2 separate regions of the Homo sapiens genome follow, and region 2 is linked to region 1. The links come from fine-mapping of genetic effects on gene expression. A gene starts in region 1. The other region holds a variant in brackets. All regions are shown on one strand. Distances are from middle to middle. Region 1 holds the start of INPP1 (inositol polyphosphate-1-phosphatase). Region 2 overlaps INPP1 (inositol polyphosphate-1-phosphatase).

Region 1 (9,470 bases):
GCAATACCTTGACAGTAGGTCTGACAACCAAGCCAACTACAAAGTGACTAACAGACAGGGGAGCATCTACAGTGTGGACACACTGAACAAGAGGGATGACCCATGGCCTGGACAGGATACAGCAGGATGGTGCACAATGTAAAACTTATGAATTGTTTTATTTCTGGAATTTTTCATTTAATATTTTCAGATCTTGGTTGATCATAACTGAAACCTTGGAAGCAAAACCACAGATAAGGGGAGACTAGTGTACTGGGAACTCAGATGTTCGATAATAGAGGAAACCTTAACTAAATAATGATATCAACCATTCTGCTATTAAATAAAAGTGCTCAGAAGAGCATTATGTAATCAGGGAGTACAGAAGAGAGAGCAACCAACTCCTTACAGAGATTGTAATAAAAGATTTTCCCAAATTAACAAATGAGGTGCTTTGTTGTCCCCCAAGCAAAGTTTCGTATATTTTTTAATTATATAAACAATACATTTCATTATGGGAAACATATACATAAAACAAAAAGCAAATATCTACAATTCCATCCCCTGCCCTAGACCACTATAAATATCTGTTTATATCTTTCCAGATTTTTTTCTATGCATTTATACACACATGATTATGTTGTTTTCGGGATCACACCATATTATTTTGTAAACTGTATTTTCCACTTAATAAATCATAAATACTATTTTATCCAATAGATACCATTCTGCAACATTTTAAAATTTTAACACTTTTTAAAAACTTGCCTCCGTGTATCTAGTTGTAACTAATTTTTATTCTCGGACATTTAGTTTGGTTTCTCTTTTGGCCATTACCAAATGTACTGTGATGAGACTTTACATTTTGGGGGTGATACAGTTTGGATGTCCCATTCAAATTTCATGTTGAGATATAATCTCCAGTGTTGGAGGTGGAGCCTGGTGGGAGGTGTTTGGATCATAGGGGCGGATCCCTCATGAATAGCTTGGGCCATCTCCTTGGTGATAAGTGTGCTCTCACTCTGAGCTCACAGGGATCTCATTGTTTATGTGGCTCCTCCCCCCCAACTCCTTCTTGCTCCCGTTCTCACCATGTGAGACATCTGCTCCCCATCACCTTCCAGCATGATTGGAAGCTTCCTGAGGCCCCCCCAGAAGCAGATGGCATTATGCTTCCTGTACAGCCTGCAGAACCATGAGCCAGTTAAACCTCTTTTCATATAAATTAACCAGCCTCAGGTATTTCTTTATAGTAATGCAAGAATGGCCTAACAAGGGTGGGGGGAGGGGGGGCAGTTTTTTTTTTTTTTAAACACACACACAAAAGAAAAGCCACAGAGACATATGTGGCCTTCAAAGCCCAAAGTATTTGCCATCTGACCTTTTATAGAAAATGTTTGTATTATAAATTTCCAGGAATGTAATTTTTAAGTCAAAGTGTGTGAACATTTTTGACGCTTTCACTACATTCTGTCAAATTGCTCTCCAGAATCGTTGAGCCAATTTACACCCTTCTCAGTAATGTATGAGTTTCTTTAGTTGCTATACATCCTACTCCAAGGGTCACTGGCCCAAATTACTAGCTCTGAGTATTATTTTATTCTCAATTTGATGGTGCATTATCGTTTTAAGTTTTTACTTCTCTTAAAAATGTTTGGCCATTTACATTTTTCTCTCATGATGACGAATTTGCATTTTGCTCATTTTTAGTAGGCTATTTTTTCTTTCTAAGTTCTCTTTAATGTTATGCTTATCTGTCATGTATATTGCAAATTTTTTGTAATTTTTACTTGTTTTTAAATTTTATTCTATGGGGTTTTTTTTTGGATAAAAGAAGTTAAAAGTTCAACAGTCAGATCTGTCACTTTTCCTTTGTAATTTCAGCCGTTGTTTCATGCTTAGTTTGAGATTAAAAGCAATTCACTTGTATTTTCTCCTTGCCCTTTTAAGACTTAAAAACATTTAAATCTTTTAATCCTGTTCAAATTTAGTGTCTGGGAAACATTTTAGAAGGATGAATAGGTAATATTATGTTAGTCCTGGAGTCAGATTGCTGGGTTCAAATTTAGCCTCACCAAATACTACATATTTCTGCAAATCACTTAAACTCTTTAAGTCTTAGTTTTCTTGTTTATAAAATGGAGATAACAGTAACATTTACCATAGGGTTGATGTAAGAATTAACAGTTATAAATCACAGAAAGTACTTAGCACAGTGTCATTAGCTATTATTATAGCAGCAAGAGAATACTCTCCCAGGCAAAAGCAATAACATGTATAAAGGTGCAAATGTATGAAATCTGTTTGCATATTCAGGGAACTAGATGTGGTGTAGTAAAATGAGGTGTAATATTCAAGGGGCAGAGTTGACAGATGCGAGGGGTGATGGGTCTTGAATGAGTTGTTCAGGAACTTGCTCTTGATATTATCAGAGATTGGGAGCCAATGAAAGCTTTTAAGCAAGCAAGAAACCCTGCAGATGTGTGGTAGCAAAGTGGAAAATGGACTAGATTCCGCCAGGTGCAGTGGCTCACGCCTGGAATCCTAGCACTTTGGGAGGCTGAGCTGGGCGGATCCCCTGAGGTCAGGAGTTCGAGACCAGCCTGGCCAACATGGTGAAACCTCGTCTCTACTAAAAATACAAAATTAGCTGGGCATAGTGGCAGTCACTTGTAATCCCAGTTACTAGGGAGGCTGAGGTGGGAGAATCGCTTGAACGAAGGAGGCAGAGGTTGCAGTGAGCCAAGATCATGCCACTGCACTCCAGCCTGGGCGACAGAGTGAGACTCTATCTTAAAAATAAAAAAAAAAGAAAAGAAAAGAAAAGAAAAATGGACTAGATTTATATCCCTTGCTCCACCCTGTCTTCCCCAAATTTAAATTCCTGCTTCCTAGAGGCAAATTCTTTCACCTTCTATGTCTCTGGTATTTATCTCCTTACTTTTAAGAATCATGTTTAAATTGTTTCTTGATTTTGCCATCATAGATATGATTATGAGGCTAATTAAACAGTAATCCTAACCGCTCTGAGAATGGACCTAAGAAATGAATGTGAGAAAGAAAGTAGAAGCAGCCCACTTGCTAGTGAGTGAAAGCCAGGGAAGGGTGGGGGGATGCGGGGAGAAATTGTCTCAAGTTGGAGAACCCAGGTGCAGGCTGGGAGCAGTACCATGAATTCCATTCAAGAAGCCAAACGTTTTAAGCACCATTTCCTGGAGTTTGCCAAGTTGAGTATTGACCCAGCCTCCTGTCTTGTTGGTTCCTCACTGCTGAAGAAGACCAAGTGTTGACAACTCAGTGAGGCAGTCTCAGCTGGAGTGGAAAAATGTAGCTAAGAAAACGTGCCAGACAAAGCTTTAAGCAGAGCTTCCCAACTGGATGCCGTGAAACGAATGACAGGGATGCAGATACAGCATGGGTCTTCCCAGCCCTCCAAGTGCAAGGGCTTCTGCAGGAAGCCTTCTGCAGGAGCAGCCTCTTCTGTTTACCCCCATTTTGACCCTTGTAATATCATCCTTTCCTACCTGTGCCAAGAAGTGAAAAGGTGTGTGAAGCGCCGCTTTAGAAGGCCCAGTACATTCACAAACATCAGCTTCTGGGCGAGGCTGCTTGGCCTCTTCTATTCAAAACTTTGTGTTGCCCTTTTAAGGTTTCTATTCCCCCCACCCCCACCCCGCCCACCAACACCCATTCCTACCTAGGTTCAACCCAAACCATCCTTAAGGTACACTGAGTATCACAGCACCAAAGGCTGGAGAGAGATAAGTTCCCCACCCTTGATGCGCTTCCTGTCCAGGTGGCCCGAGGCCCACTCCTTAAGAGGCAAGGCCCAGAGACACTGCTGTGTCTTGAGGAACATCCAGTACACCTGACATTTCCATTAGAACAGTGGGACCCGGATACCACTGGCAGGAAGTCCATCTTCACAGCTGCCAACCCATCTGTCAAACCCGCAGTCCCCTATGAGAGTACAGATGAATGGAGGAGGAAGATTTAAAAGTGAATTCGTGGGCGGCGACAAGGAAACAGCAGCCGTGGCCAAGCTGACCCCAGAGCCCTTCCCTTCCTGGCCCTCCCTCTGAATCATCGCGCTCCACTTGTGACGTCGCGGACGCCCGGCTCGGGCAGGCGTGGGGGGCCCGCGCGTCCCGGGAGCCCCGAGGCGGCAGCGCGCGTTTCCACGCCGCGGTCCCGCGGGAAAGCCGGGGGCGGCGGCCTGGCTGAGGCCAAGCTCGGATCCGGTGCCGAGCCAAGCGGGGCCGTGCGTCGCCGGGGCTTCGCCTTCGCTCGCGTGACCTCCGCCGTCCTCCCCAACCCTCGTCCTCTGGCCGCGCCTGCGGCCGCACGCCCAGCGCCCCTCGCCTAACCTCGCGCCCGGGCCGCGCCTCCTCCTCCTCCTGCTCCCCGCCGCTTCCGTTTCTCGAGGGAAAGGCTGCTGCCTCCTGCTCTGTCCTCATCCCCGGCTTAGGTAACACGTTTTCCTCCTTACGACACCCACCACAGGGTCCCCGCGCCGCTGCCCCTCCTCCTTGGATCTGGGGCCCGGGCTGGTGAGCGGCGCGCGCCGTCGCCTCTCCGCGGGTAGGTGAGTCGATGGCGCCGGGAGGGTTCCTCGCCTCTGCGCGCCGGCCTGCGAGGTCCCTGCCCCGGCAGCGAGGCCGCCCCCGGCCGGGCCCGGCCAGGCATGCCCGGCATCGCCGCTGCAGCCAGCGCGGAGGGGAGCTCGTGAGTCCCGCGGCGCCCTTGGCCCTGCCCGAGCGGCCCGATGGGGTTGGGGGGCGGGAAGAAAGGGTGGCAAACAACGATTTTAAAAATCCAGTCATTAGTATTTGTAGGACGAAGAAGCTGATCTGACAGTTGTCCAGAGCAGTGGCCCAGCTGCAACAGGTAGATGGCGCAGCTGTCAGTGACCCCTTGGTCTCAGCCTTGGCTTTGAGAGATGCATCTGAGTGTCCCTAGCTGCCAGCTACCTCCAGTGACCTACTTGATGAGTGTGAAATAAATATGATGGGACTATATTTAGAAAAATCTTTACTTCCTTGCTGTTAATTCTCTCTGCATTTTGAAAGGTGGTTTTGTGAGGTGTGCATAATTAGTTGGTGTGTCCAGAGTGGTAGCTGGAAAAAAATATTTAACCTGGGTTTGGCCCTATCATGTAGACGGTTAGGCGCAAAGAGTGTGAAAGGAAACGCTTACTTTAGTACATCTGTGAAAAACACTTATAAGAAACCACGGCTTGTTTTTTGGAGATTTCTCATTTTAAAGGTATTTTTAAAGTGTTGAATAAGCAGAAGTTTGCCCACTGTATGATGGTGTTCACTTCAAAAGAACAGTGGGTTAAAAGTATGGACAGACCACTTAAGTGGATCCCATCTGTTGAGTAAAAGATTTTTTAGCCCTTTTACACTGATTCCTAGCTTTGAAGCCAGAAAAGTTGATAAGGATCAGCCCTGCTCAACTTGATAATAGTATAAGGATGAAAGTAATCCACTGAACTACTCTTGATTGGTGAATTAGCTAAGTGATCTCATTCTTACCTTTTAAAATAGAGAACATAAGGGAAAAAATAAAGGCAATGGAAGAATTCATTTTTTCAATACAGATATTTGTTTCCATTCTTATGTAGAGCCTACTTTATTTTTAAGTTTTTATGGATTTTTATACTACTTTTGAAGTCAGCTTAGTCATGAAGAGAATTATGTCAAATACATAGAGTTACACTGTACTTTTTGTGTAGAATAAGCTACCACTTTTCAAGCTTTTGGACTAAACCACCGCTTGCTTGGAAATTGCAGCTTTGACTAATGCCCTTTAAAATGATATACCTTATTATAGATTTAAATTATAGCTTTCCTTGTTATAGTCCTGAAAAAAATGAAAAGATAATTTCTTGTTTGACATAGAAGGCCTGTGAGACAAAAGTTATAAAGGTTATTATATATTTATTTTGCTTTTTAATTCTGTCTCTAATAACAGTTAGAAAATGTCTCATTCTATTTCATGTTATACAGAAATTGCTTAAAAGATAATTATGTTATATAAAGTGATCAATGAAAACAAACGTCATCTTCATTTTTTAAAGGTGAGGATGGTGTATATAAGCACTTTTTCCCGATGTGAGTCCTTATGAATGTTCTTGTTAAAATACTTTGAATCTTGTAATGAAGTTAATAAAACTATGTTAATGTGTTTGGCTGAGAGCTTAGAAATAAAGGCTCTGGCTGGCGTGGTGGCTCACGCCTGTTATCCCTGCACTTTGGGAGGCCAAGGCAGGTGGATCACTTGAGGTTAGGAGTTCGAGACCAGCCTGGCCAACATGGTGAAACCCCGTCTCTAGTAAAAATACAAAAATTAGCCAGGCGTGGTAGCAAGCACCTGTAGTCCCAGCTATTCAGGAGGCTGAGGCTGGAGGATCCCTGGAACCTAGGAATCAGAGGTTGCAGTGAGCCCAGATCGCGCCACTGCACTCCAGCCTGGGCGACAAAGCAAGACTTCATCTCAAAAAATAAAAATTAAGTTAAAATTAAAAAAATAAAAGTTCTGCTTCCCGTCTCCTGTGATTGATGTTGGGTACTGTTTCTCAAACTTGTCTGATTGTAAAATTCCTCAGGGTAGTAGGCAAGTCGGGGAGTGGGTAGAGTATAATAGTGGTTTAAAAGATTCCCAGATTGCAACTTGAGACTTCCTGGATCAGAATTTCTAAGAGAAAGGAGATATTTCAAATAGACAAAAATGATAAAATTTTAAAATAGTCAACAACAACAAAAAAGGTGAGTTTGGGAAATGCAGGTGGGAAATGACTATTGTTGGAATGAATAGTTGATAAAACTTATTAGGACTCCTGTACATAAAATGTTCATATATGGAAACTGATTTTATTAATATGATGAGGCCACTCATTTAGGAAATCTGAAACTTTTATATTTTTTTCTGGTCAAGCTTCTGCTGATCAAATTTAGCAAACATATTTTTGCATGTTTAGTCTTTTTTATGTGGTATGTAATGTTAATTCAATTTCTTGAATGTGATAAGAGCATTTTATTAATGGATGACTAATGCAGATTACTGTAACTAGTAATCCACAGCAAAATATTGTACCTAATAATTTCTCTTTCTTTTTTTTCTTTTTTTCTTGAGAAAAGGTCACACTCTGTCATCCAGGCTGGAGTACAGTGGTGTGATCATGGCTTATGCAGTCTCCACCTCTCAGGCTCAAGGAATCCTCCCACCCCAGCCTCCCGAGTGTCTGGGACTACAGGCACGTGCCACCATCCCAGCTAATTTTTAAAATTGTAGAGATGGGGTCCCACTATGTTGCCCAGGTTGGTCTCAAACTCCTGGGCTCATGACATCCTCCTGCCTCAGCCTCCCAAAATGCTGGGACTACAGGTGTGAGCTGCTGCACCCAGCCTAATTTCTTTCATATTATAGATTTATTTGTTACCTCTTCCATGTGCCTGATTAAATAATTATAGGCAAGACAGGCATGCAAATTTGAATACCTTATTAGTAGCTTTTTTTTTTTTTTTTTTTTTTGAGACAGAGCCTCACTCTGTTGCCCAGGCTAGAGTGCAGTGGTGTGATCTCGGCTCACAGCAACCTCTGCCTCCCAGGTTCAAGCGATTCTCCTGCCTCAGCCTCCCGAGTAGCTGGGATTACAGGTGCCCGCTACCACACCAGGCTAATTTTTTGTATTTTTAGTAGAGATGGGGTTTCACAGTGTTAGCCAGGATGGTCTCGATCTCCTGACCTCGTGATCCACCCGCCTTGGCCTCCCAAAGTGCTGGGATTACAGGCGTGAGCCACCACACCTGGCTCCTTATTTGTAGCTTTTTAAAAAATGACTCTCAACCCCATTCAAAAAAGAAAAAAAAATTTATTTGGCCCTAAAACTTGGTCAGTTATATATAAAAAAATTAAAGAAATAGAATATTAAATACCTATAAAATAATTTGACAAGATGAGTTACCATAATGGAAAATGTCAGAATTTATTTTCCTTTTCCTTCTTCCTCTTTACATTGCTTTTCTTTCTCCTTTTTTGGGGGGGGATGGAGAGTGTGTGTTATTTGCTCATTTGTTTTTATTTTTAACCAACTAAATATTTAAAATATAGTAAATTATCCATGTTTAAATTAATTTAAATATTTGCCAACTTTACCAATAGATATTTAAACTTGCCCTTTTCCTCTAAAGTGACAGTGGTAGGCTTTGCTCAATGCAAATGAGAGTAATAATTCATATCAAAGGAGTTAAATTCAAGTGACCAAAGAAAATTGTTCTTTTAACATTGCTTAAGGAAAGCATAACTTAAATTGATGCCATAATTTTTCATTATCAGCAACTCTTAAAATGAGGATGGAGGCTGGGCATGGTGGCTCACGCCTGTAATCCCAGCACTTTGGGAGGCCAAGGCGGGTGGATTACCTGAGGTCAGGAGTTCGAGACCAGCCTGGCCAACATGGCGAAACCTGGTCTCTACTAAAAATACAAAAATTAGCTAGGTGTGGTAGCGCGTGCCTGTAATCCCAGCTACTAGGGGGGCTAAGGCAGGAGAATCGCTTGAACCTGGGAGGCGGAGGTTGCAGTGAGTCAAGATCGTGCCACTGCACTGCAGCCTGGGCAACAGAGCGAGACTCTGTCTCAAAAACAAAACAAAACAAAACAAAACAAAACACCGGTGTGGTTGCTGTATGAAATCAACTTAAATAGCCTAGTGCCCTTCTTTAAACCTAATTTTCCTATCGCTACCCCCACTTGTTTTTTAAAAATATAAGTCAACAAATATTTATTATGCCCTTATTATGTAGATGATAAACATCAAAAGCTTTTGAAATGTGCATTTCTTTGAACCTGTAATTTTTTGTTTTTTTTTAACTTTAAAAAAATTGTGGTAAAAGATATCTAATATCAAATTTACCATTTTAACCGTTTTCAAATTACAGCTCAGTGGCATTAAGTACATTCACTTTGTTATGCAACCATCAGCACTGTTCATGTCCAGAATTTTTTCATCATCCCACACAAAAACTATACCCATTAAACAATGACTCTACCCTCTCTTCCCAGCCCTAGTAACCACCATCCTACTTTCTGTCTCCACGAATTTGACATTCTGAGTACCTCATACAAGTGGAATCATAGAGTATTTGTCTTTTTCAGTCTGGCTTATTCATGTGCCATAATGTCTTCAAGTTTCATCCATGTTGTAGCATGTGTCAGAATTTCCTTTCTTTTTAAGGCTGAATAATATTTCCCAATCTCATTTATATGAGAAGTAGATATAAAAAACAGAGAAGTTTTGAACTGGAACAGATCATAGAAATCATCCAATCCAACCTCTCTGCCCCTGCTTTTCTTTTCCTTTTTTATGTTTACAAAATGGGGAAAACAAGTCCTTCAGAGCTTACATCATGTGGCCGAGTTTATATACCTGATTGGCAAAACAGAGCCTAAGAACCAGCTCTCCTGTATCCCAAGCAAGGCTCTTTC
Region 2 (9,470 bases), 26 kb after region 1:
TGTGTCTCTTGCTCTGTCTCGCTCTCTTGCTCTGTCTCACTGTCTCTCGCTCACTGTCTGTCTCACTCTTTTGCTCTCTCTCGCTCTCTCGCTCTGTCTCGCTCTCTCTCGCTCTCTCGCTCTGTCTCGCTCTCTCTCGCTCGCTCTCTGTCTCACTCTTTTGCTCTCTCTGTCTCTCTGTCTCTTTCACTCTGTCTCTCTCAGTCTCTCCCTGAATCTCTCGCTCTCTGTCTCGCTCTGTCTCTCTTGCTCTCTCTCGCTCTTTCGCTGTCTCTCTCGCTCTTTGTCTCTTGCTCTCTGTCTCTTGCTCTGTCTCGCTCTCTCGCTCTGTCTCTCTCTTGCTTGCTCTCTGTCTCACTCTTTCCCTCTGTCTCTTTCACTCTTCCTGTCTCTCTCTCGCTCTCTGTCTCTCTCGCTCTGTCTCACTCTCTCTGTCTCACTCTCTCGCTCTGTCTCTCTCTTGCTTGCTCTGTCTCACTCTTTTGCTCTGTCTCTTTCACTCTCCCTGTCTGTCTCTCTTGCTCTCACTCTGTCTCACTCTGTCTCACTCTGTCTCACTCTCTCTGTCTTGCTCTCTCTGTCTCTCGCTCTTTTGCTGTGTCTCTCGCTCTCTCTGTGTGTCTCTCTCTCACTCTCTTGCTCTGTCTCTCTCGCTCTTTCGCTCTGTCTCGCTCTCTGTGTCTCTCGCTCTCTCTCTGTCTCTCTCTCTCGCTCTCTCTGTCTCTCTCACTCTTTAGCTCTCTCTCTCTGTTCTTTCTCCACTGAAACTCTTGAAATGTAATGGCTTATCGTGTGGCTTTACCCTAGGGGAAAAGATTACCTTGAGGTTGTGTTCAACAGAGGAGGAAACAGCAGAGCTTCTTAGCAAAGTCCTCAATGGTAACAAGGTGGCATCTGAAGCATTAGCCAGGGTTGTTCATCAGGATGTTGCCTTTACTGACCCAACTCTGGATTCCACAGAGATCAATGTTCCACAGGACATTTTGGGAATTTGGGTGGACCCCATAGGTAAGTATAGGAAAGTATGTTTGTTCTTATTTGCAATCTTTTTTTTGGTGGTGGGGTTGGGGATGGGTGTTGGAAAAATAAAAATTATTGAGTGTAGTTTAACTCTGCTAGAAGTTTTTAAAATTTTAAAGTTTTAAAACAATGAGAGTTGAGGTGTATGTGTCATGTGTTCTGTATATATACATATATATTATAGCCGTGTGTATATATATACATATCTATAACAGGTGTGTGTATATACACACACATACATACAGGCACACATGCAAAGATGAATTAACTTCTCTTCAAAAGACTTCAGGGACCAGACTGGTAAGTAAATGAGAGAATGAAGTGAGAGCAGTTATGACCAATTGAGCACACATACCATTTAAAGAGCACTTAGCTTTAGCAGATTGTTACCATATGGGAGTACAGGCCAGCTCTTCAGATTTTTAAAGAGAAACCAAAATCCAAGGTTTTCAGCGATATATCCCAATTTCTAACCGTTAGCTACTAATTCAGTTAAAGAAGGAAACAATCAAAAAAACACAGTACAGGTCAAGCAAAAAGCTGAATGTGACGCATGAGCAGTTTGTGAGCCCTGCATGAGCTCTACATTTTTTTTGGTCATGATTGTGATAGAACCATAATGTATAATCCATTGTTTTGAAAATGTAACCCTTTTTTTTGAGACAGAGTCTCGTGTTGCACACAGGCTGGAGTGCAGTGGCACAGTCAGAACTCACTCACTGCAGCCTTGTCCTCCTGAGCTCAAGCAATCCTCCTATCTCAGCTTCCCAAGTAGCTGGGACCCAAGTAGGTGGCAGAGTTGCATGCCACCTCACTAGGCTAATTTTTTATATTGTTTTTAGAGAAGGGGTTTTTACCATGTTTCCCAGGCTGGTCTCGAACTCCTGGGTTCAAGCGATCTGCCTGCCTTGGCCTCCTAAAGTGCTAGGATGATTACAGGCATGACCTACCATGCCCAGCCAGCCTTTATCTTCAATGATGCTATTAATACAAGTTCTAGGTAATAATTTTAATAAGCTCCCCCTTCCTTTTTTTTCTTCCCCACCCAACACAATGGGACCATTCAAGGACCAGGCAAACTCCTCTCTGGGCCCTTCCCATCCTACAAGTGCATTCACAGGATGATACTGAAATGGGTTTAATCTTCAGATAATTATATCACATTCAGCCAGTGGATGATATATGGAAACTAAAAACCTTTCCCCAAATCTTTGATCATTTAAGGGTAAATTGGCATCAGTTATAGTTTCTGAGGGACAGAGATCTCCTGTTTCTTGGTTCCACCCTGAATTGATTCTGTTTTTGAGCTCTTTGAGTCTTTTGCCAGGCACATCCTTAGCCGTGTGTTGACTCCCTAGACGTCAGCAGTCAGCTGCTGGCATGTACATCTCTTAAGGGGAAACCTAGTTTCTCTGCCTCTGTTTCATAGGAGCTCCGTTAATTTCTTTTTTTGGTGCCACCATCATTGTCTCTTTCTTCCTTCTAACTTGAGGGACCAAATAATAATAGTAAAAGATAATATTACCTGTGACCTATTACAGGAGGGGGGCTTTTCTTTTTTTCTTTTCCTTTTTAAAATGTTTGTGGGTACATAATAGGTGTATATATTTATGGGGTAGATGAGATGTTTTGACACAGGCACACAATGTGAGATAAGCACATCATAGAGAATGGGGTATCCATCCCTTTGAGCATTTATCCTTTGAGTAATAAACAATCTAGTTACACTCTTTATTTTAAAATGTACAGTTAAGTTCTTATTGATTATAGTTACCCTATTGTGCTATCAAATAGTAGGTCTTTTTTTTTCACCCATTGGAAGGAGGCTTTTCCATCTCACATTGTACTAGTCCTCTGATTAGTAGTATTTCTAAAATAATCCCACCAATTATTCTGGTTATTACTTTTTCAATGCTTTTGATAAGTAACAAATATTTGAATGCCTGTTATATACAAATTGCTATGCCACAGGAACTATAGACACATCCTCTCCCTTCAAGAGTTCTCACAGTCAGGAAAATGAAACACAAGCAATTTAAAAGTAAAGTACAAGAGGCCAAATAACAATTCAATACAGTGACATCCAAAGGTAAAAAATTATTGGTTACCAAATCAGTAGAAGAGAGAAGTCATATGGAACAGAGTCTTCTAAATGATCTTTACCTGAATCCAAACACATTTGTTTCCTTTTTCAGATTCAACTTATCAGTATATAAAAGGTTCTGCTGACATTAAATCCAACCAGGGAATCTTCCCCTGTGGACTTCAGTGTGTCACCATTTTAATTGGTGTCTATGACATACAGACAGGGGTTCCCCTGATGGGAGTCATCAATCAACCTTTTGTGTCACGAGATCCAAACACCCTCAGGTAAAAGGCAAATATTTTTGGTATATTATGGTTGTTAGAACTTACGACCTCAGCTTTGCTTGTTGTTAGGATTATCACTATATGACATTCCCATGACTTAACACATGGGAGTGTTGCCATTGAAAGTCTGCGTATTTGAATTAAAGTTCTATTTTCAATCTTGGATTTGCGTAATTTTATTTCAGGCCAAGTGCATGCTGGTAGAAATTTTAAAATTAATACTATCCTGTAGAAATCATAGTTTTACATTTGGAATATAGTAATCCTGTTCCCTGTTTCTAGAATCCACTCAAAACCAGATAAGTAGAGTGGTGGTAACACTGCCTTCCAATACATTGGGAATAAGACAGCTGCCATCGCTGTATAGCCAGTTGAACTTTGGTATAATTTTAGAAGTTCAAAACAAAATGTGAAAATTATCCAATGAAAAGATTGGTAGGCATGGCCAGGATCAGAACCTAACTCACACTCCCTTTCTGCCTCCTCCCTTCCACTCTTCCATGCACTCTTAAACAGAGCGTAGAAAGTGGCCAGGACTCAGCTGCCTCTGATCCATGGCCTGTGCTTTGGGGTTGACTCCAGGGCATGGCAAAGTCCAGGTGGAACAAGCAGTTCAGCTTTTTATTGAAATAGGTCATATTTTTTCACTTATATAGGATTACATATTTTTATTGAACCTGAGCTGCTTCAAGTAACAATCATTTGCTCTTTAATAGTCATAAGTTTATACCTCTTAAGTTTTAATATTTTCCCCCTACCCCCACCATCTTCCAAACTAAAAATAGGTTTCTGCTATCTTTAAAAGGTTAATAAGAAATTAAAAAGAATTGGAACAATATGCAGACATAATCATGGCCTAGAAATGGAGGTGGTCAACAAAATAGTTTATGGCACAGATTCAGAGTGAGACTTTGTGGGTTTGAATGCAGATTCTACCACTTTCTAGCTGAGTGGGCCTCAGCAAGCTACTTACTTTCTCTAAGCCTGTTTC[C/T]TTATCTGTAAATATGTAACAACATAGACAGTAAGTTAAGCATTGATAAAGGGAAGGTGCTATAATTATTGTGGTTGCCAAAACTAATAACATTGAGTCCATCTTTCTTTGTGTTGGAAGCCAACGTGAAACTAGTGAATAAGAGAATGAAAAGGAGTTACCAAATAAAGAAAAACTTGTTATAGGGATTGTAGAATATTTGCAGATCAAAAAGAGATATCACTTTTCTATTCCTTTTTCCCTACTAAACTTTAAATACTAAAAGTTGTAATGAAATTTTGCAATGGTTCTGGAAGCTGGAAACCCCATAAATGTTTTAGTGTTGTCCTAGATTGATGTGATAATGCCATAAAATTGAAAGCATTTCTAATTGCAACAACTCAGGCAGCTGCATGCATATAAGTAACTTTCTGAAATAAACTAGCTACCTGATATCTATTCCTAGACTTAAAGGTGTTAAGATTCACCATGTTATGATGAATTGTGTATTTCTTCGTATCATTAAGTTTGAAAGTGACATGAGTAATGAAAAACAAATGTGATAATCATCACCAATTGAAATTTTTCTTCTACAGGTGGAAAGGACAGTGCTATTGGGGCCTTTCTTACATGGGGACCAACATGCATTCACTACAGCTCACCATCTCTAGAAGAAACGGCAGTGAAACACACACTGGAAACACCGGCTCTGAGGCAGCATTCTCCCCCAGTTTTTCAGCCGTAATTAGTACAAGTGAAAAGGAGACTATCAAAGCTGCATTGTCACGTGTGTGTGGAGATCGCATATTTGGGGCAGCTGGGGCTGGTTATAAGAGCCTATGTGTTGTCCAAGGCCTCGTTGACATTTACATCTTTTCAGAAGATACCACATTCAAATGGGACTCTTGTGCTGCTCATGCCATACTGAGGGCCATGGGTGGGGGAATAGTAGACTTGAAAGAATGCTTAGAAAGAAATCCAGAAACAGGGCTTGATTTGCCACAGTTGGTGTACCACGTGGAAAATGAGGGTGCTGCTGGGGTGGATCGGTGGGCCAACAAGGGAGGACTCATTGCATACAGATCCAGGAAGCGGCTGGAGACATTCCTGAGCCTCCTGGTCCAAAACCTGGCACCTGCAGAGACGCATACCTAGAGGAACTCTAACCCCGGTGTACCTGTATAAACTGAACTGTGAAACTGTTTCGGTTATCTCTGTCTTTTGAGGATGGCTTTGTCCTGTTGCTGGTTAACATTCACCTTCCTCTTTTGAGGAGTATTTTTCCATTATGTATTCATAATAATGTTAATTTCAATAAATGACATTCATGCAGCAATTATATTGGTGTATGAAATTCTTACAGTGAATATTGTGCTGTTAGTGCTGCTTGAAACATTTCAATAAAATATTGACCAGGAGCAGTGGCTCATGCCTGTAATCCCGGGACTTGGGGAGGCCAAGACGGGCGGATCACGAGGTCAAGAAATCAAGACCATCCTGGCCAACATGGTGAAACCCCATCTCTACTAAAAATATAAAAATTAGCTGGGCTTGGTGGTGTGTGCCTGTAGTCCCAGCTACTCAGGAGGCTGAGGCAGGAGAATCGCTTGAACCCGGGAGGCATAGGTTGCAGTGAGCCGAGATTGTGCCACTACACTCCAGCCTGGTGACAAAGCGAGACTGTCTCAAAAAAAAAAAAAAATTGATGAACGAGGAAAAAATCCTGTTAAATTAGTAAAACTATGCTAAACATCTAAGCGATAGAAATTTCTCTGAAATATAAGGGAGAATACAGGAGGGGTTTGCTTGAGTTTTGTTTCCTCTCGAAGGGAAAAATCTGCAATTTTAGCCTGTTGGCAGAACATTTAGAACTTAATCTGCGTAAGTTAGCCAAGTTTATGTACTTTTAACAGTATTCTTGTATTTCTTATAGGAAGTAAAGCCTGGAACACTGTGGGCTCCCCCTTTGCAGAGACAGGGAGAGACAGGGATACACACACACACACACACACACACACACACACACACACACATACACAGTGAAAGACACAGACAAACAGAAAGACACATATACACACACAGAAGCAAAAGAGTACAATGAGTAGAGGTTTCTGCAATTTTTGCATATTTACTACACTTTACCAAAAACCAGAGGTGGACTTTAGATATATACAACCCTTGTGTACCAGCATCCCACAGTGAATGTTCTCTGAAGTGGACATAAAGTACTTTTTCTGTATTCTCTGTGGCAGGCCTGGTAACCAGAGAGTGCCAACTGCAGGGATCAAATCCTCGGCTCTGACTTCATTCTGCCCTACGCCCCCTGGGGGCCAAAGGATGTTTCTACAGATCCTCTATTTACAAATGCATGAAAATAACAATCTTATTTTCTAATGTCCTTACACTTAAAAATTTTTGACAAATTATGTTTATGTCATATGATATGATGCTTTGACATATGTATATATTGCAGAAGGGCTAAATCAAACTAACATTACCTTACATTTTTTTGTGTGTGTGTGTAGTGAGAACACTTAAAATCTGTTAGCAATTTTCAGGTAAACAATACGTTGTTATTAACTATAGTCACCACGTCATAGGATCTTTTGAACTTATTCTTCCTGTTAACTAGGATTTTCTATCCTTTGACCAACATCTCCCAAACACTCCAGCCCCTGATAACCACCATTCTACTCTCTGCTTCTGTGAGTTTGACTTTTTCAGTTTCCATGTGTAAGTGAGGCCGTGTGGTATTTGTCTTTCTGTGCCTGGCTTATTTTACTTAACAATGTCCTTCAGGGTCATCCAAATGACAAGATTTCTTTTTTTATGGCAGAATAGTATCCATTGTGTATACATATTAATACCACATTTTCTTTACCCATTCATTCATATCTTGGTTGATTTCATATCTTGGCTATTGTCAATAATATCAAAATGAGCATGGGAGTGGAGGTATCTCTTTAACATACTGATTTCTTTTCGTTTTTTTTTTTTTTTTTTTTTTTTGTTTTGTTTTTTTTTTTGAGATAGGGTCTCACTCTGTCACCAGGCTGGAGTGCAGTGGAATGATCATGGCTCACTGCAGCCCCAACCTCCTGGGCTCAAGCGATCCTCCCACCTCAGCCTCCTAAGTAGCTGGGACTATAGGTGCATGCCACCATGCCTGACTAATTTTTGTGTTTTAGTAGAGATGGGGTTTTGCCATGCTTCCCAGGCTGGTCTCGAACTCCTAGGGCTCAAATTTCTCAATTGGAGGGGTCAAAAGCTGGATGGAAGAGGGAATCATTATATTCTGTGAACATCTATAATGTATATTATTCACCATCAATCTTTGCAGAAAAGCCAAAGCCCTTTCTTTAAGCATGTGCCTCTGATGGGTCTGCATTGTTTTTCTTGCAGAAGCCACAACCAGGTGACTATGATTTCTAGTTTTATTTTCTGTAGAGGAAGAACTTAAAAATATTCCATTTTTACAGTGGTGTTTGTTTTTGAGACAGAGTCTTGCTCTGTCACCCAGGCTTGAGTGCAATGGCACGATCTTGGCTCACTGCAACCTCTGCCTCCCAGGTTCAAGTGATTCTCCTGCCTCAGTAGCTGAGCATAAATCTCAGCTACTCTCCTGAGTAGCTGAGATTACAGGCACTTACCATCATGCCCGGCTAATTTTTGTATTTTTAGTAGAGACAGTGTTTCGCCATGTTGGCCAGGCTGGTCTCGAACTCCTGACCTCAGGTGATCCATCCACCTTGGCCTCCCAAAGTGCTGGGATTACAGGCATGAGCCACTGCGCCTGGCCACAGTTTTCTTACCAACTAATTTTTTGGTTCACCTTTACCCACACTTACTAAAGCCTCCAATTCTTTGTTTTCAAACCCACACTCCATTACTTTACGTTATATTAATTTAATTATTAGAAATAAAATTGGAATATAGAGTTGTGGAAAGAAGTAAACAATTTTTTTTTTTTTTTGAGATGGAGTCTCACTCTGTCACCTGGGCTGGAGTGCAGTGGTGTGATTTTGGCTCACTGCAACCTGCACCTCCCGGGTTCAAGCAATTCTCCTGCCTCAGCCTCCCTAGTAACTGGGATTACAGATGCCTGCCACTATGCCCAGCTAATTTTTTGTATTTTTAGTAGAGACAGGGATTCACCACGTTGGCCAGGCTGGTCTCCAACTCCTGACCTCGTGATTCACCCGCCTTGGCCTCCCAAAGTGCTGCCACTGCACCCGGTCAACAATTCTTGGTATGCAGGCAATTTATCTGATGGGAACAGGAGTTGGAGGTAGTGATGGAGGGGTGTTCTACAGAGGAGCCTCTTGGCCATGAAAGTCAAGTGTCTTTTGCATCAGTCTGTGTTTTACAGGAGGATGGATAGAGAGATTAGTCTGCCAGGTCACTTAGACACAGAGTAGTACAAAGAGAGCCTCAACTGCACATCAAGAAGAGCAGTCTTTGGGAATCCAAGTCAACATCCCTTCCTTTCTTGCTCTCACAACCTATATGCAATCACTCAGGAAACTCTCTGGTCTCCACTTTCAAAAATATATCCAGAATTCAGCTATTCCACATCACTGTCCTATACCCCACCCTGCTCCATGCCTTTTTATGCATCACCTGGATTATTGCAATAAACTTCTAACTTGCCTCCATACTGTTCATTCTCAAGACAGAAGCCAGAGTGATCTTTTTCAAACACAGATCAGATCATGTCCCTCTTCTGTTCAAAATTCTCCAAAGCACAATAAAATACCATCTTACACCAGTCAGAATGGCCATTATTAAAAAGTAAAAAAAACAAAAACTGATGTTGGCAAGGATGTGGAGAAAAAGAGATGCCTATACACTGATGATGGGAATATTAATTAGTACAACCTCCATGGAAAAGAGTATGGAGATTTCTCAAAAAACTAAAAGTAGAACTACCATTCGATCCAGCAATCCCACTATTGGGCTACCCAAAGGAAAAACAAAATAATCACCTCAAAAAGACATTTGCACTCATGTTTATCACAGCATTCTTCACAATATCAAGGTTAAGGACTCAACATAAGTGTCCACCGTCGGAGGAATAGATTTTTTAAAAATGCGGTATATACATATAGAA

What was found.
Region 2: its variant is fine-mapped to the expression of INPP1 in cerebellar hemisphere (GTEx, PIP above 0.99). The same link has a PIP of 0.9 or more in nasal epithelium, prefrontal cortex, tibial nerve and whole blood.

The regions. Positions count from the first base shown.
Region 1 is chr2:190,339,515-190,348,984 of GRCh38, forward strand. INPP1 (inositol polyphosphate-1-phosphatase) reads left to right here and starts at 4,075. Exons shown (of 7, transcript NM_001128928.2): 1 at 4,075-4,447; 2 at 9,374-9,470. LOC124906109 (serine/arginine repetitive matrix protein 1) reads right to left here and starts at 5,535. Exons shown (of 1, transcript XM_047446773.1): 1 at 1-5,535. The coding sequence starts at 4,802. The coding sequence ends at 3,924. RefSeq lists silencers at 4,061-4,370, 4,441-4,770.
Region 2 is chr2:190,365,888-190,375,357 of GRCh38, forward strand. It overlaps INPP1 (inositol polyphosphate-1-phosphatase), which reads left to right. Exons shown (of 7, transcript NM_001128928.2): 5 at 808-1,008; 6 at 3,216-3,390; 7 at 4,957-5,778. The coding sequence ends at 5,515. Among named protein-coding and RNA genes, the nearest start is that of INPP1, 27 kb to the left of the region's middle. The variant C/T (reference allele first, on the strand shown) is at 4,382.